Linked DNA regions of Homo sapiens: regions 2, 3, 4 and 5 are each linked to region 1. The links come from fine-mapping of genetic effects on gene expression. A gene starts in region 1. Each other region holds a variant in brackets. All regions are shown on one strand. Distances are between the middles of the regions. Region 1 holds the start of WDR11 (WD repeat domain 11). Region 2 overlaps WDR11 (WD repeat domain 11). Region 3 overlaps WDR11 (WD repeat domain 11). Region 4 overlaps LINC02930 (long intergenic non-protein coding RNA 2930). Region 5 overlaps LOC105378519 (a long non-coding RNA gene).

What was found. PIP is the estimated chance that this variant, and not a neighbour inherited with it, causes the effect.
Region 2: its variant is fine-mapped to the expression of WDR11 in activated naive CD4 T cells (Schmiedel 2018, PIP 0.95).
Region 3: its variant is fine-mapped to the expression of WDR11 in lung (TOPMed, PIP above 0.99). The same link has a PIP of 0.9 or more in aorta, atrial appendage, coronary artery, esophagus muscle, fibroblasts and lymphoblastoid cells.
Region 4: its variant is fine-mapped to the expression of WDR11 in whole blood (INTERVAL, PIP above 0.99).
Region 5: its variant is fine-mapped to the expression of WDR11 in whole blood (TOPMed, PIP 0.97).

What each region holds. Positions count from the first base shown.
Region 1 is chr10:120,849,220-120,854,310 of GRCh38, reverse strand. It overlaps WDR11 (WD repeat domain 11), which reads right to left and starts at 2,949. Exons shown (of 29, transcript NM_018117.12): 1 at 2,805-2,949; 2 at 1,676-1,787. The coding sequence starts at 2,890. WDR11-DT (WDR11 divergent transcript) reads left to right here and starts at 3,132. Exons shown (of 3, transcript NR_033850.1): 1 at 3,132-3,617. RefSeq lists enhancers at 2,465-2,524, 2,219-2,762, 2,535-3,004, 3,165-3,284, 2,763-3,307.
Region 2 is chr10:120,904,471-120,909,575 of GRCh38, reverse strand. It overlaps WDR11 (WD repeat domain 11), which reads right to left. Exons shown (of 29, transcript NM_018117.12): 25 at 4,765-4,930; 26 at 4,160-4,257; 27 at 3,555-3,700; 28 at 2,721-2,800; 29 at 52-1,020. The coding sequence ends at 863. All of the region lies in intron 2 of LOC105378519 (a long non-coding RNA gene), which reads left to right. Among named protein-coding and RNA genes, the nearest start is that of WDR11, 56 kb to the right of the region's middle. The variant T/AT (reference allele first, on the strand shown) is at 1,974.
Region 3 is chr10:120,871,772-120,876,876 of GRCh38, reverse strand. It overlaps WDR11 (WD repeat domain 11), which reads right to left. Exons shown (of 29, transcript NM_018117.12): 11 at 2,954-3,038. Among named protein-coding and RNA genes, the nearest start is that of WDR11, 23 kb to the right of the region's middle. The variant G/C (reference allele first, on the strand shown) is at 2,782.
Region 4 is chr10:120,806,037-120,811,141 of GRCh38, reverse strand. All of the region lies in intron 2 of LINC02930 (long intergenic non-protein coding RNA 2930), which reads right to left. All of the region lies in intron 1 of WDR11-DT (WDR11 divergent transcript), which reads left to right. Among named protein-coding and RNA genes, the nearest start is that of WDR11-DT, 43 kb to the left of the region's middle. The variant C/T (reference allele first, on the strand shown) is at 2,137.
Region 5 is chr10:120,920,917-120,926,021 of GRCh38, reverse strand. The region is part of intron 2 of LOC105378519 (a long non-coding RNA gene); the gene reads left to right. Among named protein-coding and RNA genes, the nearest start is that of WDR11, 72 kb to the right of the region's middle. The variant C/T (reference allele first, on the strand shown) is at 2,184.

The DNA of each region.
Region 1 (5,091 bases):
AGTGAAAGAAGTCATGCACAAAAGACCACAAATTATATGATTCAATTTATATAAAATCCCCAGAATGGGCCAGTCTACAGACACAGAAAGTAGGTCAGTGGTTGCCAAAGGATGAGGGAAATGGGGGAAATGGAATATGACTGCTAGTGGATATAGGGTTTCTTTTTGAGGTAAAAAAGTTCATTGTAATTGTGGCTGCATTAACTGTGGATATACTAAAAGCCACAGAATTGTGCATTTTAAGTCAGTACATTTTATGGTATGAGTATCTCAATAAAGCTATTATTTAAAAAAGAAAAAGACTCCAAATCTCTATCTCTAATCCTGACCTATCTCCTAAAGCCCGGATCACTATAATGCAATATATTACAGGCATCTCAGATTTTGCATGTTGAAAACTTAAAAATTCACTGACTTCACAGATGCTTACCTCTGATAACTGGAAACACTGTCATTCAATTACACCAAAAGAAACCTTGGAGTCACTCTATTCTCTTACTCTCCTTTATACTGATCACTATAAAGGCTATCAGGTTTACCTCTTTGCTGCTCTTAAACATGACTTCTCCATGCCCCAGCTTTATTTTAGGCCCTTAGAATTTCCCACCAAAATTACTGCAGAAATCTCCTAAATGATCTTACTGCCTCCAGTCTTGCATTTCTTCAGCAGATCCTCCACTGCTGCCAGAGTTTTTCTAAGACGCGAATATGGTCACATCAATCTCCTACTCAAAAATCCAAATTCCTGCTGGGCGCGGTGACTCACACCTGTAATCCCAGCACTTTGGGAGGCCAAGGCGGGTGGATCACGAGGTCAGGAGCTCGAGACCATCCTGGCTAACATGGTGAAACCCGGTCTCTACTAAAAATACAAAAAATTAGCTGGGCATGGTGGTGGGTGCCTGTAGTCCCAGCTACTCAGGAGGCTGAGGCAGGAGAATGGCGTGAACCCAGGATGTGGAGCTTACAGTGAGCCGAGATCATGCCACTGCACTCCAGCCTGGGCGACAGAGTGAGATTCTGTCTAAAAAAAAAAAAAATCCAAACTCCTTCGTAATCTTACAAAACTTCAGGACAGACAGCTGAATCTCTCTGGCTGCCTCTTATTTCATCACTCCTACAAGTGTCCCATCTTTAGCCATCTTTATGGCACGCTACTTACTTCTGTGTATATTCTTGCTTTTCCCTGCAATGCTCCTTGTCAATTTTTTACTTGGCTAACTACTGTCTACTAGTCTTGAAACTGTAGACTTCTGTGACTCTCCTCACAACCAGGCAATATGCAGCTCCTCTGTTTTCTCACAGCGTGTTACGCAAGTCTCACTTATCACACTATCACGCTGTGAGTCTTCCTTATAAGATGGAGAATTATCTGAGGGCTTTCATCTCCATATCCATAGCATATGGTAAGTGCTCAAAACTAAGGAATGACTGAGTGGTCTTGTAAATGGTAGAACTTTCATCTGCCTTAAAATGATCTAACAACTAGCATTTAATAACTCACCCTGTATTGACATTAAGTCATATATATGAAAATTCTAGGCTACCCCAAATAGGTTGTTATATTTAAAAGCTATTCAACACTTACACGTAAGACTTAATGAGAGCTTAGTGATACACAGTATTAAACTTTAGACTAGACAACATGTTAGCGTCAAAGTGGGATTTTACTTACCTTTACAACATCAGCTTTATGCTTTTCTAAAACTTGAAGAGTTTGGGCAGTAATGGAATCAATCACTACCACAAGTGAATGACATCCATAAGCAATTAAACCTTGCCAGCCCCTAGCAAAACAGTAATGTTAAAGTTTAAGTACAGAACAAAGCAGGACGACTTCTTTCTTGCCAAGCCTAAATAAATGATAAGTCTAATTCATATGTACCACCATTAATAAAATCATTTAAACCCAAAGGCCAGTATTTATCATTATCCCACTTAAATAAAAGATCTGGCTAAGCTTAAAATGCTTGTTGAAATTCACTTTTCATTCGGATAAAAAAAGTTCTAAAAGATATGAAAATAGAGACCCGAGGACATAAAAAGGAACTTGTGCCCTCTGACTGTTCTTGTAGGCATACGTCTTTCGCTTATCCGATTTCTAATCCTTAGTATCCACAATGTGCCTGGGGATACTGCGACTAATCCTAGTCCTTCCAACTAAATAAAACGACAAACACTGCACAAGACGTTTCAGTCCTCCTAACAACATCCCACAGCCACAGAATTTTGCTTTACATTTGTCTAATGAGTAGTTTTCAGAGCTGCAGTAGTAATTTATAGTGAAAGGAGAGAGTAATAAAGACGACCTGTTGAAGGCAGGAATGTTCTACACAGGAGGAGCCCGAAAAGAGGTGAAAAGGACAGGTGAAAGAACAGGCGCCTAGCACAGGGTCTGGCACATTGTTGAAAGACAACAGGAATACAAGACAACGAAAAAGAAAAGACAGGATGGGAAAGAGAAAGTGCACAGGGAATTAATGGTGGAGAGAGAGAAGCCTGGAAGCTGGAGGAGAGGAAAAGAGAGAGGAATGGAACGGCAAAAGGGCGAGGTGCAGAGAAAACAGCAGAGAAATACGCGAGAAAGAGGGGAAATGTATTTGCATGGGGGAATTTCCCACACGGGGCTATTATCACTTTTGTAACAACAAAAATCCACCAACTGAAAGCAAGCTCATTGCGTGAGGGCGGCTCCCTGCCTTAGCGAGGCCAAACTAACCAGGGGGTGAAACCTCTTGTCCTTCCCCCTTCCCCCTCACACATTCCTGGCCGATCCTGGCGACCTGGAAGCTCGGCGTCCTCACCAGTCCACCGCCGCCTTGTTGTGGGCGTTGAGGGCCCCCGTGAGGGTGCGCGCCGACACCTTGAAGTTCACTGTGTAGGGCAACATCCCGGCGGCCAGCCCAGGACCTGGGCGCTGACCCGCAACCAGGAAGCGGCGGACACTGTGCTTCCGTTCCAAACAGAGTCCGGGTGGCCCCCTCGGCGCCGCTGTCAGGTTCCTCTAGATTCAAGTTCTACAGGCTCCGGGTTCCACCGCTCCCGGATTCCATCGCCCCCAGGTTCCGTTGCCTTCAGTTTCCTAGGATCCTAGGTTCCGCACTCTCCAGAGTTCCGCCGCTTAGGCGGTTGTGCTAATCTGCGTCAGCTGGGGCTGTATTTGGAAGAAGAGGCGCTGCCTCCAGTCAAGTCTGTTTTTTTCAGGTGGGGACTGTAGGCCTTTGTGCCCTGCTGGAAATCGTGAAAAGCAAGAGAGAAGAGTCCCAGTTATTCTTGCTGCCTTTGATAAGTGAATTTAGGGCAACTACTAGTGCCAGTAGGCATGGGGGATCTACCGATGAAGAAGACACAAAGTCTCCGCTCTCGTGGAGTTTACAGAGAATAATGAATGAGATTAATTAAGAAATGAATGAGATTAATTGAATGAAATTGCCAGACTGAATGAAGTGAATGGCCTGAATATAAACAATTTCCAAATACAGATAACACTGCATATCTGGTGTTTGCAATACTCCCTTCGCACTTGAGGAAGAAGCACTATGTCTGGGGCCAAGTGTGACCCTTTGTCTGTTGCTGGGTACCTTTCATTTCGCACTTTCTCCTCTGCTGCTCTCCAGGTCAGACCCAGTCCTTCCCTCCTTTGTGTTCAGTGTTGGGTTTATACGCTTTAACTATAGCACTTAATGCAATGATTTCTTTTCAGCAATGATATTTGCAGATGTGTGTTTCTCTCCCCAATACATTGTTAGTTTCATGCGCGTCCGTGTGAAGAGACCACCAAACAGGCTTTATGTGAGCAATAAAGCTGTTTATTTCACATGGGTGCAGGTGGGCTAAGTCCGAAAAGAGTCAGCGAAGGGAGATAGGGGTGGGGCTGTTTTATAGGATTTGGGAAGGTAATGGAAAATTAGTCAAAGGGGGTTGTTCTCTGGTGGGCAGGGGTGGATCTCACAAAGTACATTCTCAAGGGTGGGGAGAATTACAAAGAACCTTCTTAAGGGTGGGGGAGATTACAAAGTACATTGATCAGTTAGGGTGGGGCAGGAACAAATCACAGTGGTTGAATGTCATCAGTTAAGGCTGTTTGTACTTCTTTTGTGGATCTTCAGTTACTTTAGGCCATCTGGATGTATACATGCAAGTCACGGGATGCGATGGCCTGGCCTGGGCTCAGAGGCGTGACATTCCTGCCTTCTTATATTAATAAGACAAAACAAAATAGTGTTGAAGTGTTGAGGCGGCGAAAATTTTTGGGGGGTGGTATGGAGAGAGAATGGGTGATGTTTCTCAGGGCTGCTTCAAGTGGGATTAGGGGTGGCGTGGGAACCTACAGTGGGAGAGATTAAGCTGAAGGGAGGTCTTGTGGTAAGGGGTGATATTGTGGGGATGTAAGAAGAAACATTTGTCGTATAGAATGATTGGTGACGGCCTGGATACGGTTTTGGATGAATTGAGAAACTAAATGGAATAAGAGAAGGAGAAAAACAGGTATAAAAGGTCTAAGAATTGGGAGGACATAGGACATCTGATTAGAGAGTGCCTAAGGAGATTCAGCATAGTCCTGCCAGCAAAGATTATTTATTTACTTCAAGAGTTTAGAGTGGCAGTTTGGGGATAGCACCAGGAGATATCAGCTGTGATGGCTTGGAGAAACAGTGTAAACCGGCAGTGTAAACAAGAGCAGGGCATGTATGAGTAGTTGAGAATGGTGAATAGGAGTATGACTACAAAAGATAGGGATGACAAGTTTTTTGGGGCACAGTCTAAGTTGGTCTGGTGTCAAATGAGACTGGGGCCTAATAAAAAGGAGCGTCTATACAGGAGCTTAAATGGGATGTACCTTGTAGCATTCTGAGGACAGGCCTGAATTCTGAGAAGCGAAAGTGGTAAAAGTATTGTCCAGTCCTTTTTAAGTTGGTGGCTGAGCTTGGTGAGCTGTCTTTTTAAAAGACCTTTAGTCCGTTCTACTTTTCTTGAAGACGGAGGCCTGTAAGGGATATAAAGGTTTCACTGACACCTACTAAGAGCCTGAAAAACTGCTTGGCTGATTTGACTAATAAAGGCTGGTCTGTTATCAGACTGTATAGAGGT
Region 2 (5,105 bases), 55 kb before region 1:
GCCACCTCATGACCTGGCCTCATGCACAGCAATGCAGAGAACACAAAGGCCTGGATGGAATTTTTAATTTATTTATCATGTTTGTAAGTTACAGACATTTATGTTTTCAGCAACAGTTTATAATAGTTACATCTCATACTTCAACTATTAGAACAGAGAGAACATTAAAGTACAAAGAAAGACTTCAAAAATGAGGTTACTGTGATGTATCATAAAAGGAGTTAAAATTCAAAATATCAAAGACCTCACCTATCGGACTAAACATAAATCTTAAAACCTCCTATGGTCCTCTGAGCCTAAAATTACAAAACTTAGCAACTGCTTAAACCAAGGAATTAACGGTTCTGTGTTTTCAAGGTAAGAAAACAAAAAATGCTTTGGTAAACTACCTTTAATACTAGTTTAAATGTTTCTGCCTTGTTTGTATCTCTCTTGAAAGACTGTATATAAGTACAGGCACAGCATATATTTGAGAAAACATCTCACAAATTTCATTTACTATAGGTTTCTCAATAATCTTTACATTTAATCAATGAGAAAAGTGATTCAGTCTCTTGAATTTTAAGTTAAAAAAATTAAAAAGTATTTCCAGGGACTCTTAAAGCTCTCTCCCAAAGTATAAAATATTATGTACTTTCAAAATCTTAAGCATTCACGTTCTTTCTGAGACCAACGCAGGATACAAACTTACTCTCAACATAGATGCTTATGTGCTTTTGGGCACACATAGTCTTAGAACAGTGGTCAAACAGCTCACAGGACCCTGTACTCCTCTTCATCCTGGACTGTGACGGTGGCCACAGCCAGACCAGCCCCCTCCCATCTGCCTTCCAGGTCAGATTCCCTGGCATTTATTAAGCTGTCACTCTTCAATGGGTTCTTCCTTGGGGGACTCAAGCTCATTCAATAAGTCTTTGCCAGCTGCTCCGGCTTTTGAAGCAAAGAGAACTGCTCCCTGCTTAAAACCGAGGTTCTTCAAACTCCGGGCATAATCTGCATATATAGCAGTGATGAGTTTCTGTAAACCATAGTTAAGGAAAAGAAGAGTAAAAAGGGCTGTGATGAGACTCTTCACAGGCTCCCAGAAGCAGGAAGGGTGAGTCGCGTCTGCTCTGCTGGCTGCTCGGAAGGGACCTGGTGTCCACAGCGGGCAGCACAGGATGAACACAGGAGACTTTTCGCGGGCAGAGGGTGATTCCCGGCCATAGTAGGCCATGTCTCAGTCTGTACCATCATTACCTTTCGTACCAGCTGAGTCCAAAGCTTCTCCTTCCAGAAGACCCAACCAACATCCTCCCATAACCTACACTCAACTGAAGATTGGAAGATGAATGATAAGAGAGGAGAAACTTAACCTGCATATCCTCATTCCATTTGAAAGTCTGAGAGGCTGGCAGTTTGGGGGCAGATATTTATTTCTGAATGTTCCCTATATCTGGTTGTTGGGTTTTTAGAAAGCCCTGTCCTATTGGTTTTTTTTTATTTATTTTTATTTTTTTAAACAGCCTATTGGGTACTCTGTGCTGATGCTTTGATCCTCAAAATGCATACACTGAACCAGTCACCTTCCCAGTGACTAGGTACATGATCTTGAGTAGGCTCAGCCTTCAGTTTAATTTTAAAAAACTTTCAGTGCAGGGCTGGGTGGCTCATGCCTGTAATCTCAGCACTTTGGGAGGCCAAGGTGAGAGGACTGCTTGAACTAGGAGTTCAAGACCAGCCTGGGCAACATAGTGAGACCCGGGTTACTACCAAAAAAAAAAAAAAGCCAGGCACAATGGTGTGGACCTATGGTCCCAGCTACTGGGGAGGATGAGGTGGGAGGACTGCTTGAGCCCAGGAAGTCAAGGCTGTAGTGAGCCATGATCGTGCCACTCACTCCAGTCTGGGCAGAAGAGTGAGACCTTACCTCAAAAAAAGGAAAAAAAAAATTTTTAGTTTAGTTTTAATTCTCTGTTAAAAAAAAAAAAAAA[T/AT]TATAAACACACACAGAGAAAGAGGGAGAAAGAGAGAGAGAACCAAGTACCTGCCATGTAGAAATGAGAGCAAATGTAAGAATTTGAAGCAAAGTGCAGTGAGCAGCAGCAGGACCATGCAAGCACTGGCCCAGTTTCATTCTTTTCTGGTCCTGGGAGTTGCATTCTCAAGTTCATTCTTTTCAAAGAAACCAATGTTGCTCAAGTGCCATTTAGAAGAAATAAAATGTTCTGGCTGATGGGTGGATTATAGTGGCTGGCCTGAGCAACACCTCTCTTTAAGTGCTGTATTTTGTCCCATATCATATTGTCACTAGAGGTGATCGTGAGACTTTTTTAGTTATTCCAGTATATTTTTTCTAGATAAATATATAAAATTTATTCCATGGAATGTCTGGTCTTGAAAAAGTACTATTTCAAAGTACCAGGTCCTTCTACCTGTTTCCCAAATCATTCCTTCATCTTCTTTTTAAGTTCAGACAAGACTTGGGGGCCCTGTCCTCTATAGTCCTTCCTGCCTCCCTCCATCCTAGTCAAAGCTGACACCCATGGTGCAGCCACCTTCTTATCTGATTCTTTGTCCTCTAATTTCTCCCTCTTTCCTGGCTTTGGTGAATCAGAAAATCAGAACATGGATCTTTCACAATATAATATAGTTCCTGTCCAGGCAGCACAACTAAGGGAAATTCCAAAACCCATGCATGTCACTTTCTTCCTCGTCACTACAAACAACCTTGCAAAGGATATCTGTGTCCTCAGTGACTTCAAATGCTCCATACTTGAGGCAAGCTTCCACAAATAAGGCTGCTCTATCAAAGTATCTCATGCTGCTCAACAGAACAAAACAAGAGTTATGCTTTGTGATTTACATCACTGGTGGGCAGCAGCATCGAAGGGTATAAAGACATTTACACATTTTCCCTGGAAACCTGCATACTGCATTAAGATACAAGCACTTTTCTAAGCCCTAGTTTGTTGAAAAAAGGAGGGAAGAATACTCACATCTCCAAACACAAGCTTTTTAAAATTAATACTTTAAAAAATTGTGAAATAGTTTAAATACACAAAAATCTACAGAGATATGACAAGTGCCCATGTACCCCTGTCCAGAGTTGACAAGTAATCTTTTGTCATATTTCCGTAATCTACCTCCCTTAGTTTTGAATAAATGAAATGCTCCACAATTAGTGATGGTTGTTCCTCTTCCAGATTTTCAGACGGGATGTCTCCACCTCACCATGCCTTCTGTCGCCTCTCCCCCTGCTCTCTGGGCCTCCTCTCAGTTGCTCTAGTCAAAGCTGAATGGACCCCAATTCTCTGAAGACTTTTAAATTCCCTTTTACTAGGTGCCTGTTAAGTCTGATCAGCATATTAGTAGGAAACTAGCATAGCTCCTAGACCGAATGAAGATGTAATGAATACGGACAGTTCCATTCTCCTTTGGGTTTTTTGACAAACCTGAAATGTATACTTCTCCTTTCACTTTACACATCGAGTACCATGACCTGCTAGAACCGCGAGAGAACATGAAGTGACTGCTCACGGGCAGGCCTGAGCAGCCCATGTGAACTCTCGGTTTACCTGTGAAGCGTCTCTGCCACGCTAAAAAAGCAGCCCAGAGAGAGGAGAACCAGGAGAGCCTTTGATTTCTGATTGACTTGTGGAGAACAAAGGTGGTCAACCCACCGCCTTAAAACATCGGCACACTCCTCAGGATTCAAACGGACCTGAGAAAGACGCCTGTGTTAACAACAAAAACATCCTGCACTCTATAAAGAAAAAATAATAATTCAGTTAAAGTGAGATCTGTTTCTATGAAATACAGGCTATGCTCTGCTTGACTAGCACACTGCCCTGAAGCTGCTGCATACTCTGAATAATGATAACGGTCTGTGCCTACGGGACCCAGGGCCTGGCTATACCTCTGGACTGTAGTTTCGGCTCAGACTCTGGGAGAAAGAGGAGGCAGCTGCTTTTACTTAATTGCTACCAATGCAAGATCCATTTTTAAATAAGTAATGCAATTTACACTCATAAAGAATAGGAAAAGGATAAAGGTTCCAAGACAGTATTTGCAAAGCAGCTTTGCAGGCCAAAAAATGTTTCTAAGTCATAAGTCCAAAGTTCAGGACTGAGCTTTCTATCCCGAATGTTGAGGGCACCTATTGAAACTTGGAACCACCTACTTTTGCCAGCCATGCAGCCCGATTCCACTCGCCGTATGTCTGCAGGTAGCGGCAGGCGTCTGCAGCCTTATCTATCAGGCAGAGCAACTGAACGCCCTCTGAAAGACAAAAGCGCATCCCCTTAAGTGACACTGCAGCTCCTTCTTTGAGAAGTCATTAAAAAGTTAAATCCCCATTTGACCTTATCTAGTCGTGCCCATTTTATACCTACTGAAGACATTCTTGATTTAAATTCTGAAACATAATATTAAGAGTTTTACTGTTATTACTCAAGTAACCAGGGTAGGAAGCACAATACAGTCTGGAGAATAAGTAGGGAGAGCATAGTTCTCTCACAGGTTTTATTGTTCTGATTTGCCTAGGATTGTTGGATTTATGCCTATTATCTCAGCAATTATTAACAGTGCCCCCTTTCACTCTGAAAAGTGTAAACAATTAATTCTGGTTTAGACAATTATATTCATCTGATTTATAGGTAGCAATAATTTTTCTATTTTTCTTCAGCATATGTAAAAGAGAAAGAAATGTCCCTACTAATCAGATACTTTGCTGGGAACAAGGTCTCATTTTTCAGAGAGATGACAAACATATCAAGTGTGCCTTACCTGCCAATTTGCCATTGGCAATCATATTCGTTGCCACCAACTTAATGGTGCTCTGAGAGGGGCCTGACGAGGTGACAGTAGTGACTAAACAGGCTTTCAGTGAATCACAGTAATAATGCTGGTTATCTGCACTTGTTTCCAACAGCAACTGCACAGCTCTGTCTGTCTAGTAAGAGAAACGGTTTTTCTAATTATGAGAACATTTTCCTCCAACATAACTTTTTAAAATTCATAAGGTAGAAAACTAAAGGAAAACACTCATTTTCAAAAAATGCAATTGAATATTTTGTTTACAAATACAAACATTAAACAGAGGTGCTACACTACTTTTTTGAGACAAA
Region 3 (5,105 bases), 23 kb before region 1:
AATTCCATCTAGCTCCTTCACAGATTACTCTGTAATTTTCAGTTTCTTACTCTGTAGACTGGAAATACAATACCTGCCCCATACGATTGTAGTGGGGATTCAATGAAATGATACGTGTGAAGTATTAATAGTTAACATAATCCCTAGAATAAGTAGTGATTAAATGGAGAGTTTCGATTGGTTAGTGCTGACCATAAAAGGAAACACCAGACACACAAGGCAGGGTGAAAGGAAATGTCGAGAGAAGAGGAGATGGGAAAGAGAGAGAGAGAAGATTCAGCAGTGTAAGCAGAGACTACTAGAAGTGCCAGAATGGCAAGCTACAGACACTGCAACAGAAGAGAAGAGATGAATAACAGCCTGAAAGAGTCCAAACAGATACCTGTGTCACTGCACCTCAAAAGCCCAAAGCTTTTAAAGACATTATTATTCCACGTAAATGTATCTGGGGAGATGCTGTATAGGAACAGCGTAAGGTGGCAATAAACAGTCACCTGGGCTGCACCACACAACAATGCACTTGAAACAGTAAGACAATGCAAACTTTTCAGAGATTTCCATCACAATCAGAAGCTGTGATACTTAAAAGGTTAACCTGGCCTGGCGCGGTGGCTCACGCCTGTAATCCCAGCACTTTGGGAGGCAGAGGCAGGTAGATCATCTGAGGTCAGGAATTCAAGACCGGCCTGACCAACATGGTGAAATCTTGTCTCTACTAAAAAATACAAAAATTAGCTGGGCGTGGTGGCATACACCTGTAATCCCAGCTACTTGGGAGGATGAGGCAGGAGAATTGCTTGAACCCGGGAGACAGAGGTTGCAGTGAGCTAAGATAGCGCCATTCCACTCTAGCCTGGGCAACAAGAGCGAAACTCCAACTCAAAAAAAAAAAAAAAAAGAAAAAAAAGGTTAACCCTTCTCCATTAAGAAAATGCATGTACTCAGGATAATGTGTTTGCTAAGGGTTCACTGAGAATTTTTATACACAAGACCTACAATTATTTAATGTACAGAAAACAGAAAATGACTTCTTATGCTTTCACTGAAAGATCATAAAAAAAAACTGGAAACTGGCTGGGGGTGGTGGCTCATGCCTGTAATCCCAGCACTTTGGGAGGCTGAGGTGGATGGATCACTTGAGGTGAGGAGTTCAACATCAGCCTGGCCAACATGGTGAAACCCCGTCTCTACTAAAAATACAAAATTTAGCTGGGCATGGTGGCACGTGCCTGTAGTCCTAGCTACTCAAGAGGCTGAGGCATAAGAATCACCTGAAACCAGGAGGCGGAGATTGTAGTGAGCTGAGATCGCGCCATTGCACTCTAGCCTGGGTGACAGAGTAAGACTGTATCAAAAAACAAACAAAAAAGTGGAAATTCATATTTTATATATGTAACTCTACGATCTATCACTGATAGGACACAAAAGGAAAATAGCCTTGCATTCAGCGAAATAATGCTATGGACAGCACAGGTAGGCATTTTGGAACAGAAAGCAAGAAGCACTTTTCCGTCAATTTAGCTTTCCCTCGGACAGCTCTGCATACACAGAACTCATAAGCAGATCATGTCCTAAAAATCAAATAAATGCTATGCAGCGTTCTGATGATGTTTAAACAAAGAATAAATAAGACAAATTAACAATTAAAATGACTTTATTTGAATTTGTCATAAGCAGTCCTACTGATGGATCGTTATAGAAATGAAAAATACGCAGCCATAAAAAAGAATGAGTTCATGTCCTTTGCAGGGACATGGATGAAACTGGAAGCCATCATTCTCAGCAGACTAACAGAGGAACAGAAAACCAAACACTGCATGTTCTCACTCATAAGTGGGAGTTGAACGATGAGAACACATAGACACAGCGAGAGGAACATCACACACTGGGGCCTATCGGGGATTGAGGGGCAAGGGGAGGGAGAGCATTAGGAGAAATACCTAATGCATGTGGGGCTTAAAACCTAGATGACGGGTTGACAGGTGCAGCAAACCACCAAGGCACATGTATATCTATGTAACAAACCTGCACATTCTGCACATGTATCCCAGAACTTAAAGTAAAATTAAAGAAAAAAAAAGAAAGAGGAAATGTGGTACATACACACCATGGAATACTATGCAGTCATAAAAAGGGAGATCATGTCCTTTGCAGGGATATGGATGGAGCTGGAAGCCATCATCCTCAGCAAACTAACACAGGAACAGAAAAACCAAACACTGTATGTTCTCACTCATAAGTGGGAGTTGAACAATGAGAACACATGGACACAGGGAGGGGAACAACACACACTAGGGCCTGTTGGCGGGGGCATGTGAGGGGAGGGAGAGCATCAGGACAAATAGCTAATGCATGTGGAGCTTAAAACCTAGGTGATGGGTTGACAGGTGCAGCAAACCACCAAGGCACATGTATAACTATGTAACAAATGCACGCATTCTGCACATGTATCCAGGAACTTAAAGTAAAAAAAATTTTAAAATAATAAAAAATAATAATTTTGAGCAAAATAAATAAATAAAATAAACCTGAACAAGGCAACGTAAGGATATCCAGTGAGAAAACAGCCTGGCCCTTAGGAGAAATAAATGAGGTGCAACAATATTAGTTGGTACAAAAATAGCTGTGTTTTTTGCCATTTAAAAAAAACAAAACAAAACAAAACAAACAACAACAACAACAACAAAAAAAAAAAAAAAACTGCAAAAACCGCAATTACTTTTGCACCAACCTAATAAAAGAGAAAACATTCTCTACTGCTTATGTTCTTTACACAGCAAA[G/C]AATTAGTTATCATCCTTGATTAACATAGCCATTAGTTGGACATGAATATTATTCAAACTTTTCAAATAATCACCACTGCAGATATTACAGAGTACTCAATGTAGAAAAGTCTATGAGAATTTTTTTTCTGATATGATGTTTGTGATGTCATCATCACAATGACATACTTACTTGACTTCACATGAGTGGATGCTTAACTCTTTGTGTAGCAGACCACTGGTGAGATGGTACACCAGGACAGAACCATTACTTGTACCTTTCAAAATGACATCATGGAAGAGCATTAATTCAGTGGGAGTTCCAGCACTTTGCAAGAAAAGTCTTTTCTCAAGACTTTAATCACTTAACACATTTATCTTTTATAAAAGAAACCCAAACTATGTGTTTAAACAAACACACAAAGAAGAATGAATTTCTCTGGTCCACTTCCTTATAAAAAAAATGGGCCTAACCTCACGTGCTCAAAAGCCTTGCCTAATTCCAGGAATAGATTTTTCACAGAAAGACCTTAAAACTTACATTAATACACATACAATTTGAAGAAACACTTTCCTAAGCTTTTATACACATGGGAATTTATACTTTTTGAGACTCAGAAGGTTTATTATAGCTGGTCCTCAAATAAGCAATCTAGCAGAGCTCACTAACCAGGGTTATCCATTTTTCTTTCCAAAGTTTTCTTTTTGTTTTGTCTCTTTTATTAAATAAATCCTGACAAGAGAGTAAAGTATAATGGTTAACTGTGGTTTCTGCAATTAAAGAAACCTGGGCTTAAGCCCTGGCTCTTCCTTATACTCTTGGATGAATTACTTGCCCACACTAAATCTGTGTTTTCATCTCTTTAAAATGGGAAGAGTAGAAAATCTAGTTGTTGGAGATTAAATGGGGAAACATAAAGCACTAAGCACAGTAATTGGCACAAAGTAAGCACTTGGTTAACTATTAGTATTCTGTCATCACTATAATTAATAGTTTACAGGTATTATTCTAAAGCTTTTCATGGTCTCAGGTAGTATGTCTAAAGTTTAAATGTAAAGGACACGGACATACATGAGAAAGTAAAGCTTCAGTCTCTATAGTGTTTTTATAAGTTAAGCAAGAAAAGTGAACAGTCTATATGGACAATCACTTTTGCACTGCACATGATTTAAAGATTAATGAATTCATGCAAAGCAACAGAGTGGAAGTAAAAATGCTGGGCAAATTCCAATATTATCTTATTTGCTGAATAAAACTCCAGAAATCTTTTGCAAAACTATTCTAGAAAAACACATTGTACAGTTGTTTACATTTATCATCTATTTCATAATAATACCTTTTGGCACTGAGAAAATAACTAAATTACTAAAATTTTTCAATTAACAGAACTTCATAATAATCCAATGATTTCTGCAATCTGAAAGTTTTAACAATGCTGAACCTATGATCTAATGCACTAGGGGCACCACAAGGAGAATTAATTCCATAGCTGAACTCTTATTTATCTTTCTTAGTGACACCTCTAGACAAACTTTTAGGTACTTATATTTTTACTTTGTTATACTAAATTCAGTAAATGATATTCACTACATACCAATACAGCTTATTCTACAATGGAAAGCTCAGACCTTGCCATAGCTCTTATTACATAGCTATCCCAAGAAGTAGTTTTCCCCAAGAAATTGACAAAATCCTAACTGACAAATCAGGAACACTGACATAATACATACATGCACATATGAAGCACACTGATGAATCCTAATTAAAATCTATTAGTGGTGAAATATTAATCAACAGTTTCTAAAGCAAAAATTAAACATTTATCTGCATTATATAAATCGGGACACATATATAGACAATTGAATCATAAAAATCAAATCGCTTTCAAAAGATAGGCACAGAAAAAAACAGAAGGGTACTACCAAACAGTAATACCCAAATGAGTCTTTAACACTGAGAAGTCAGCCATGTTGGCCACAGAATAAATATGGTGAGGTTTTCACCACAAATCACATGTTAATAGACTGGGGGAGAAAGCCAGAAGCCAGCCGATAGCATCTTAAGAAGAAATGTTGAGTTTCAAACAAATACACTGTTTTTCAGAAGTTTTGGAGAAATGTATTTTAATAATGTGTACTTAATAGCAAACTAAATTTTGTTTTTTTCTCTATGCTGTAAAGAAAATTAGGTTCATCACATTACTATGAAATCAATGTGACAGCAAGTTGGAACCCAGATAAATTTTTCTACCTATAACATACAAATACACAATTTCACACCAAAAGGCAAATCTTAATTTATAGGGACCATAGCCACTTTAAATAATATTTAATATATAACTCTT
Region 4 (5,105 bases), 43 kb after region 1:
CTTGGTGTGAGGGAATCTATTTCCGATAGGGGACCCAGGGCGTTTGGGGCTGGGGCAGTGGCTATCAGCTTGCCCAGAATTATCCAGTGGCCTGAGGCAATGCTCCAGGAGTGCTTAAAGCAACTGGCCTCCTTGGCTCCCACTAAGTAATGCTGAGGTCTGTCAGTGGAATTCATTTTTCTAGCATTCGCACCAAAAGTGTCCAGGCAGCCTACAGTAAGCAACACATCACTGGTGGGGTGCCCCAGGCAGATTGGAGAAGCTGTGGCCACATAGAGTGGGGGAAAGAGCAGGGGACCTCCCTGAGCCTCAGTTTTCTCCTCTGTAAGTGGAGTGTGCTGACTCCCCAGGATTATGCAAGAGTTGGAAGAGCAAGGATGTTGGGGAAATGCTGGGCAAGCAAGCAGCAAGTGCTCAAAGGATGCTGAAGCCAGGGCTTCCCTCCCTTCTTTCCTTCTTCCTCTCCTGCTTAGCATGGTGTTGGGTCCAGGAACAAAATAATCTAGAATACAAAAAGTGTGATAGGTGAGCTGTTGGGAAGGGCTGCAGGATGGGCTGCTGGCAGCCTTCCAGCTGGGGAAGTCAGGGAGGCTTCCTGGAGGGGTGGCGGCTGAGCTGGCTAGGATCCAAATGTGAGTATTCCTCCTGGGGAAAAGCAGCAGCAAAAGCAGCCTTGGAAAGAGGAAAGCAGGGGATCCAGGGCCCTAATTCAGGGAGGGAGTTGTGCATAATAGCAGGTGTGACAGCCAACAGAGGGAATGGGAGGGAAACTGGCAGGAGGAGGGTCTGAACTTACACTCTTTACAGAGCCTCAGCTGGCTTTTGAGTTTGCACGGAGTGTAGGAAGTGAGCAAATCAATGTATGCTTTGAGAAAATTAATTTGGTATAAGTTCCTCCTGAATTTCATTGTGTTTGATATGAAAATTTAGCCTTGGGCCAGCACTGCATGGAATTTTTAAAGTGCATCACTTCACAGATTAAAAGGGGGCCCTCTGCTCCTGATACCCTTATATAGAGAGTTCTACTTAATTTTACAGAAGGGTACAGTTTAACCTGCTCTTGTTCCATGCAACTCGGAAAAATAAATTATTTAACCAAGGATATGCTTTAGGGCATTATGTTTGCCTTTTTTATTTTAAAAATTGTTTGTCCTTCTATTTTCACGCCTTTAGTTATTCAATACAGCCTTCCTTTTACTAAAATCATGTGCCTGTCCTCTTGAAACTGAAAAACTTGTCTAATGTCATAAAACCATAAGGGAAGAGTGTTCTCTGCCCCAGATTTTGGCCTATATGCCTCTTTTTTCTGTTTAGTCTTAATTGAAAGATTGTTTTATACATTGTTCTTTTTCCCCATATCTATTTTTGTTTTTTCTAGTCTCATTTCAGAACTCACTCAACCATTTCTGCTTCTCAAAGAGATGCTATTCTGTTGATAATAGAGAAATCTCCAGGTGCACTGCCATTATCTAATTCTGGGATATTATTAAGAGCATTTAATTCAAACAATCATGTTTTATTAGAAAAGAATGACTAAGTCTTTGATTGAATTGACTAGGGCATAACTATTTTAGGGTTTGTTATTAGAATTTAGAATTATCAGGCAATTTCTATGGCTGTTTGAGGTGTCTGTTTTTACTTGTAATAACGATTCTTCTAATAAAACCTTCTGTAGGATAGTGTTTTCTTCTTATTAAGGGGCTGATATGCTTTATTTAATATAATCATCTTAATGCCTCAGGAAGTTTTCTATTACTTTCATTATAAGATTAGGGAAACCCAGGCATGGGACTTATATGACTTACCCAAGCAGGTGACACCTTCACTTGAACCTTCGTTTGCATTCAGGTTTTTTTTTGTTTTTGTTTTTTTTTTTTTGAGACGGAGTCTCATTCTGTCACCCAGGCTGGAGTGCAGTAGTGCGATCTCAGCTCACTGCAGCCAGCCTCCGTCTCCTGGGTTCCAGCAATTCTCCTGCCTCAGCCTCCTGGGTAGCTGGGATTACAGGTATGCGCCACCACGCTGGGTAATTTTTGTATTTTTAGAAGAGACAAGGTTTCACCATATTAGCCAGGCTGGTCTTGAACTCCTGATCTCAGGTGATCTGCTTGCCTTGTCCTCCCAAAGTGCTAGGAT[C/T]ACAGGTGTGAGCCACCGTGCTGAGCCTGTCTTCAGGTTTATAAGCCAATTCTCCTTCTGTAGTTATGTTAATGCTAAGCCCATGTGTTACATGTTATCCCTGAATTTGTGAATCCCAGAAAAACTGGCTGTTGTGGAACAATTTCTACAGAAAAAGAGGGCTAGAAATGTTTTCATTGGATACTGATAACTCTGCTTCAGTGTGACCTTTAACTAAATTATAACCATTATCATTCATTTTAATAGAGTTGATGTGATGGTGGGGACCAATGTCAATCTATTATTATGAATCATTTTCTGTATCGTGAAATCAATACCTTTTCTCTCATTACTATTTGTATTATTTTGGTATTGTTATAGATAAGTGTTCCTCAGCCTCCACTCTATTAACATTTTGAGCCAGATAATTCTTTCTGTGGGGAGCTGTCCTGAGCACTGTAAATGTTTAGGAGAAGCTGTGGCCTCTACTCAGTAGATGCCAGTAGCACCTCTCACCCCAGTTGTGACAACCAAAAAGTCTCTAGGTGTTGCCAAATATCCCCTGGGGGACAAAGTCGTCCTTTGTTGCAAATAACTGCTGTTGATGATATAGGAATTAAAATATTTTATTCTCTTAAGCTATTGAATTCTCTAACCTAAACATGCATTATTAATTACTTTGAAGCACACTTACCCATTGATCCTCCTATCATCAATAAGAATCCGTTGAGAACATCTTCCAGTACAGAGAGGAACCAACATCTGGTTAATTCAAACACAACCCCTGGGATCAGGTAATTAAACATGTTCTTAACTAGCTGTCTTACCAAAATCAACACAAACTGCAGTTTCATCCATCTTAACTACAGAGCATGTGTTTTTCTAGTAATGTTCCTTGTCAAGCTTTTAGAGCTGAGAATTGAGAAAACAAGCCAGAATCGGCATCTTTGGTTGCATAATAAATGTGTTTGACACACATCAACCTGAGTACTCTGCAAATTTGATAATCATTTCACCAATTTTTGTGTTAGATCATTTCAAATGAAGCAACCATTTATGATGGGGTAGGAGGAAAGGAGGTAAGGGTCTAGGGAAAGAGACATACACGAGAAAGGGAGGACAAAGAATTCTGGAGGGTGCCTACATGAGGCATGTATTTCTGGATTCCAGGTTGATAGACAAGAATCAATAGGCTGTGGTTGTTAAATATACAGTCCGTAGACTAGACCATCCAGTTCACATCTCAGTCCTTCTACTTATTAACGATGAACTTGAGCAAGACATTTACATTTTCCCTGCCTCACATCTTATGGTGTTGCTATCAGGATTAGTGAGTTGAAAGAAATAAGGCACATAGAAGAGGAGCCAGCAGATAGTTGCTTAATGTTACTTGTTATCCTTAAAACAATATAGATAGCTTTGCATATAGAACTACCCGTCGACACAGAGCTGGAGAGAGGCAGTGTGTGGTCTGGTGGCTTGGGTTTGGAGCTGAGCCCTGCCATTCATTGCTGGGTGACGTCTGGACCTTGGTTTTGTCGGCATAAGTTGGTTGTAAAGATTAAATGAGAAAAGGCAGGTAAAGCCCCTGGCGAGGGGTCTGGTACAAAAAGCAATAAATGCCAGTTTCTTTCCCCAGGCTTGAAGACTGATGCCTAATTCTGGCTGGTTATGAGACCCAGGAAGATTACTTAAAATCTCAGATCCTCAGTTTTCACATCCATGGACTTACCAGATCGATCTTTCCATCTGTCCATTCAATAAATTTCATTCAATCATCACTAAGTTGGCCCAGACTAAGTCCTGGAAATCTTTAAATCCCTCATTTAAAAAATATGGAGAATTTCAAATGTCTGAAAAACAGATTATGCATAACCAACCCCCATTTACCCACCACTCAATTCGAGTAAGCCACCTTTCAGCTTTAGACTTCAGAGGGCCCTTGAGTTAGGATGGCATGGAGGGTGGAATAAAAATATCAGGGGGTTTCTGTTAACTCCAAGTTTAATACGAGTTACCAGTATAATGTGGCTATAGCCCAAACTAATAACTCCCCTTAGCCTACGTTAAAACAAGCATCACATTTAGAATAAAGGCGATGATGCTCTTCTCTTACAAGCTGCTCAGGCCTGTCCTGGAGTTTTCCGTTCTGTTTCCTCATCACATTCAAGAGGCCCCTACATCAATAAGAAAAGGTCAAGAGGAGAAACAGCAGGATTGTTACACAGCTGGAAGCCATGAGTACTGATTATCATTGTCACTTATTAAGCTCCTGCTGTTTGCAAGCTGTATGGCAAGTGCTTTCTATAAATTATTGAATTCTCATAAACACAAAAAAGTAGATGTTATTGCTTTCACACCATTTTATGGATGAGACAGAGTATAAGATGAAACTGAGTAAAAGAAAATTTGAAATTCATCTCGTTCACCCAGTAGGTCACTGAGCAGAGACTTGAACCCCAGCAGTCTGGTTCCAGGACCCACATCCTGAGCCCTACACCCCAGCCCCAGGAGGCTTAACCTAGAGAAGAGAAATTGAGCTCCACAATCTTTCTTCAAATTCCTTGGAAGGCTGTCTTGTGGAAGCCCTCTTTGATGGACTTTGTGTGGCTCCAAAGGGCAGATGCAGGTTCTAGGTGTAGCAGTAACAGGCAGTGGGTTTCATTTCAACACAAAGTGCTTTTTATTCCTTAGCGCTATTCAGCACACATGTGGCTTGGGAGGCAGTGAGTTCCCTGTCACTGGAGATGTGCAAACAGTGGGGTAGTGTGGGAAGCAGGAAGAGAACAATCAGGCAGATCTGATTTGCAACCTGATTCTGTCACTTACTAGCTTGGCGGCTTGGACATAATACTACTTCTCTGAACCTCAGTTTCCTATCTGTAAAATGAAAATACTTAACTTAAAAGGTTGTTTTGAGAATTAGAGATGCTATTTACAGAGGTCCTGGCTCATGATAAATACCTAATAAATGGCAGCCTTGTTTCAAA
Region 5 (5,105 bases), 72 kb before region 1:
GACCCTATTATCACCATTTTACAAGTGAGGCTCAGGTGATAACTTGTCCAAGGCCAGGCAGCCAGATTGCCGGGAAGCAGGTGTTCCCAGCGCCGCTGCTTTCACCCTGTTCCACATCTCTGGTCCTTGTGTTTAGAACCATTCTTGAGTGGGTTTGCCAAAGGCAAAAAGCAAAACCAAGGCTTGGCTGACAGTTACTGAGGCCCTCTGAAATGTGCATTGGCAATTCCAGAAACACAAGCTCAGATCAGATCCTTAGCATTTAAATGAACTTATGTCAGGTTTGCTACAATATGATCTGCTGGAACAGCTTTCTAACTCCTTAACGGGATGAGGTATATTTTCCTTGGCCTATTCTAGGCAAAGATCAGCAACTTCAAACAAGGAGCTGTTCTTCAAATAAATTCCTCATTGATACACATTTTTGAAGAACACTGGGAAGTAAAAACCTGGAGGACTGAATTGTGTTGTTGGGCAGATAGTTCTTAAGAAAATGATCTGCATCATGTCTGCACAAATCAGCCTTAAGAAATCTCTTGTTTCTTAGGATTCCCTCCTTTCCTTCCATAACGTACCTGTGCAAACATAGTGGTTTGCCAATTTCCTCCTTGAATTGTCTCCATTGGATTATATTGCAGACTTGTCCATTTTTCACTTCTAATTATTGTTCTACTTCCTGGCTCAGCTCTGTGGGATTATTTGAAGCCCCAGTCATTGGGCCCTGTAGGAGTCCCTGACCTGAGATGCACTTCCCAAGAGGGAGGTACGTGGGTCCCTGCACCCCATGGATTCTCTTCTACGACAGTAGTGCATGCCACTTATTTGGGACATAAATATTTTTTCATCTTCTAGCCTGCCTGAAGTATTTTGGCTTAAAAATGATGGTAGAATGCAAAAGATTGGAATAAAGTGAAGATCTCATAGCAGAACGTGTTCAGAAGTATCTGGAGTAAAATGGAGATTTGCTTAAAAATATTTGATAATGAAACGGCACTTGGAGTTAAACTTTTCAATCATCTGTTGATGCCTTTGACCTCAGATTTATCAACAATAATGTGTCCGGAATTGGTGGGTTCTTGGTCTCACTGACTTGAAGAATGAAGCTGCGGACCCTCGCCGTGAGTGTTACAGCTCTTAAGTTGGCGCGTCTGCAGTTTGTTCCTTCTGATGTTTGGATGTGTTCAGAGTTTCTTCCTTCTGGTGGGTTCGTGGTCTCCCTGGCTCAGGAGTGAAGCTGCAGACCTTCGCGGTGTGTGTTACAGCTCATAAAAGCAGAGTGGACCCAAAGAGTGAGCAGTAACAAGATTTATTGCAAAGAGCAAAAGAACAAAGCTTCCACAGTGTGGAAGGGGACCCCAGCGGGTTGCCACTGCTGGCTCGGGCAGCCTGCTTTTTATTCTCTTATCTGGCCCCACCCACATTTTGCTGATTGGTAGAGCCGAGTGGTCTATTTTGACTTGGCGCCGACTGGTGCGTTTACAATCCCTGAGCTAGACACAAAGGTTCTTCACGACCCCACTAGATTAACTAGATACAGAGTGTGGACACAAAGGTTGTCCAAGTCCCCACCAGAGTAGCTAGATACAGAGTGTCGATTGGTGCATTCACAAACCTGAGCTAGACACAGGGTGCTGATTGGTGTGTTTACAAACCTTGAGCTAGATAGAGTGCCTGCTGGTGTATTTACAATCCCTGGGCTAGACATAAAGGTTCTCCACGTCCCCACCAGACTCAGGAGCGCAGCTGGCTTCACCCAGTGGATCCCGCAAAGGGGCTGCAGGTGGAGCTGCCTGCCAGTCCCGTGCCGTGCGCCCGCACTCCTCAGCCCTTGGGTGGTCGATGGGACTGGGCGCCTTGGAGCAGGGGGCGGCGCTCATCTGGGAGGCTCCGGCCGCATAGGAGCCCATGGAGGGGGTGGGAGACTCAGGCATGGCCGGCTGCAGGTCCCGAGCCCTGCCCCGTGGGAAGGCAGCTAAGGCCTGGCGAGAAATCGAGCTCAGCGCCGATGGGCTGGCACTGCTGGGGGACCCAGTACACCCTCCGCAGCCGCTGGCCCGGGTGCTAAGCCCCTCATTGCCCGGGGCCGGCAGGGCCGGCCGGCTGCTCCAAGTGCGGGGCCCGCCAAGCCCACGCCCACCCGGAACTTCAGCTGGCCCGCAAGCGCCGCGCGCAGCCTCGGTTCC[C/T]GCTCGCGCCTCTCCCTCCACACCTCCCTGCAAGCTGAGGGAGCCGGCTCCGGCCTTGGCCAGCCAAGAAAGGGGCTCCCACAGTGCAGCGGTGGGCTGAAGGGCTCCTCAAGTGCCGCCAAAGTGGGAGCCCAGGCAGAGGAGGCGCCGAGAGCGAGCGAGGGCTCTGAGGACTGCCAGCACGATGTCACCTCTCAATAAGACTAAGGTCAGCCTGGCGGATAAACCTTGGAGTCTCCTGGGCCCATTCCCATGGCAACATGGGCCTATGAAGAAGCCAGATGGGACGGAGCTTATAACAACAACCTTCTAAGGAGGTAGGTTCTAATGCACCTAGCTGCAGAAAAATTACAAAGGACCTCATACCAGTCTGTAAACAATACGGCAGTTAGACAGCTGAGATTTCATCACCAGGAAGCATTTCGACCCTAGAGAAGGAGTTATTGAACTATTTTTCTGTAAAGGCCCAGAGAGTAAGTATTTTAGGCTTTTCAGGCCACTTGATTCCCTTCTAGCTTTTCAACCCTATCATTGAAAACAGTCAGACAATGAACAGGTGGGCACAGTTTTGTTGCAGTAACACCATATTTCTAGAAAGAGGCAGGGATTCGGGCTGCCGGCTGTGGTTTGCTGACCCTAAACCTGCAACATCACTGACCAGGAACAGGAACAGGAACAGCAGAGGCCGCATCGTGTGTAGCTTTTCTCGCTCTGCTTTCACGTCGGCTGCCTTGCTTCAAGTGGTGGCTCACGCCTGTAATCCCAGCGCTTTGGGAGGCCAAGGCGGGCAGATCACGAGGTCAAGAGATCGAGACCATCCTGGCCAACATGGTGAAACCCTGTCTCTACTGAAAATACAAAAAAATTAGCTGGGCATGGTGGCATGCCCCTGTAGTCCCAGCTACTCGGGAGGCTGAGGCAGGAGAATCTCTTGAACCTGGGAGGCAGAGGTTGCAGTGAGCCAAATAGCGCCACCGCACTCCAGCCTGGCTACAGAGCGAGAGCTCCGTCTGAAAACAAAAACAAAAACAAAACAAAACAAAAAATACCCTAACTGCAAAGCGAAAATTGACCCCTCTGGTTACATTTTGTTTTGGTTTTGGTTTTTGAGACAGAGTCTCGCTATGAGCCAGGCTGGACTGCAGTGGTACGATCTAGGCTCACTGCAACCTCTGCCTCCTGGGTTCAAGCGATTTTCCTGCCTCAGCCTCCCGAGTAGCTGGGACTGTAGGCACATGCCACCACACCCAGCGAAGTTTTTCTATTTTCAGTAGAGACAGGGTTTCACCATGTTGGCCAGGATGGTCTCGATCTCTTGACCTTGTGATCTGCCCGCCTCAGCCTCCCAAAATCTGGTTACATTTTTAAGGCAGTGATTACTGAGGATTGTCTTTTTATCTGTTCTTAAATTCTCAACGATTTGTTCAAATCCTGTCTTTCTGAAGCAGCCCATCAGAGCCTCTTTTTTTTTTTTAATTATACTTTAAGTTTTAGGGTACATGTGCAGATTGTGCAGGTTAGTTACATATGTATACATGTGCCATGCTGGTGCGCTGCACCCACTAACTCGTCATCTAGCATTAGGTATATCTCCCAATGCTATCCCTCCCCCCTCCCCCCACCCCACCACAGTCCCCAGAGTGTGATATTCCCCTTCTTGTGTCCATGTGATCTCATTGTTCAATTCCCACCTATGAGTGAGAATATGCGGTGTTTGGTTTTTTGTTCTTGCGATAGTTTACTGAGAATGATGATTTCCAATTTCATCCATGTCCCTACAAAGGACATGAACTCATCATTTTTTATGGCTGCATAGTATTGCATGGTGTATATGTGCCACATTTTCTTAATCCAGTCTATCATTGTTGGACATTTGGGTTGGTTCCAAGTCTTTGCTATTGTGAATAATGCCACAATAAACGTACGTGTGCATGTGTCTTTATAGCAGCATGATTTATAGTCCTTTGGGTATATACCCAGTAATGGGATGGCTGGGTCAAATGGTATTTCTAGTTCTAGATCCCTGAGGAATTGCCACACTGACTTCCACAATGGTTGAACTAGTTTACAGTCCCACCAACAGTGTAAAAGTGTTCCTATTTCTCCACATCCTCTCCAGCACCTGTTGTTTCCTGACTTTTTAATGATTGCCATTCTAACTGGTGTGAGATGGTATCTCATTGTGGTTTTGATTTGCATTTCTCTGATGGCCAGTGATGATGAGCATTTTTTCATGTGTTTTTTGGCTGCATAAATATCTTCTTTTGAGAAGTGTCTGTTCATGTCCTTCACCCACTTTTTGATGGGGTTGTTTGTTTTTTTCTTGTAAATTTGTTTGAGTTCATTGTAGATTCTGGATATTAGCCCTTTGTCAGATGAGTAGGTTGCAAAAATTTTCTCCCATTTTGTAGGTTGCCTGTTCACTCTGATGGTAGTTTCTTTTGCTGTGCAGAAGCTCTTTAGTTTAATTAGATCCCATTTGTCAATTTTGTCTTTTGTTGCCATTGCTTTTGGTGTTTTAGACATGAAGTCCTTGCCCATGCCTATGTCCTGAATGGTAATGCCTAGGTTTTCTTCTAGGGTTTTTATGGTTTTAGGTCTAACGTTTAAGTCTTTAATCCATCTTGAATTGATTTTTGTATAAGGTGTAAGGAAGGGATCCAGTTTCAGCTTTCTACATATGGCTAGCCAGTTTTCCCAGCACCATTTATTAAATAGGGAATCCTTTCCCCATTGCTTGTTTTTCTCAGGTTTGTCAAAGATCAGATAGTTGTAGATATGCGGCGTTATTTCTGAGGGCTCTGTTCTGTTCCATTGATCTATATCTCTGTTTTGGTACCAGTACCATGCTGTTTTGGTTACTGTAGCCTTGTAGTATAGTTTGAAGTCAGGTAGTGTGATGCCTCCAGCTTTGTTCTTTTG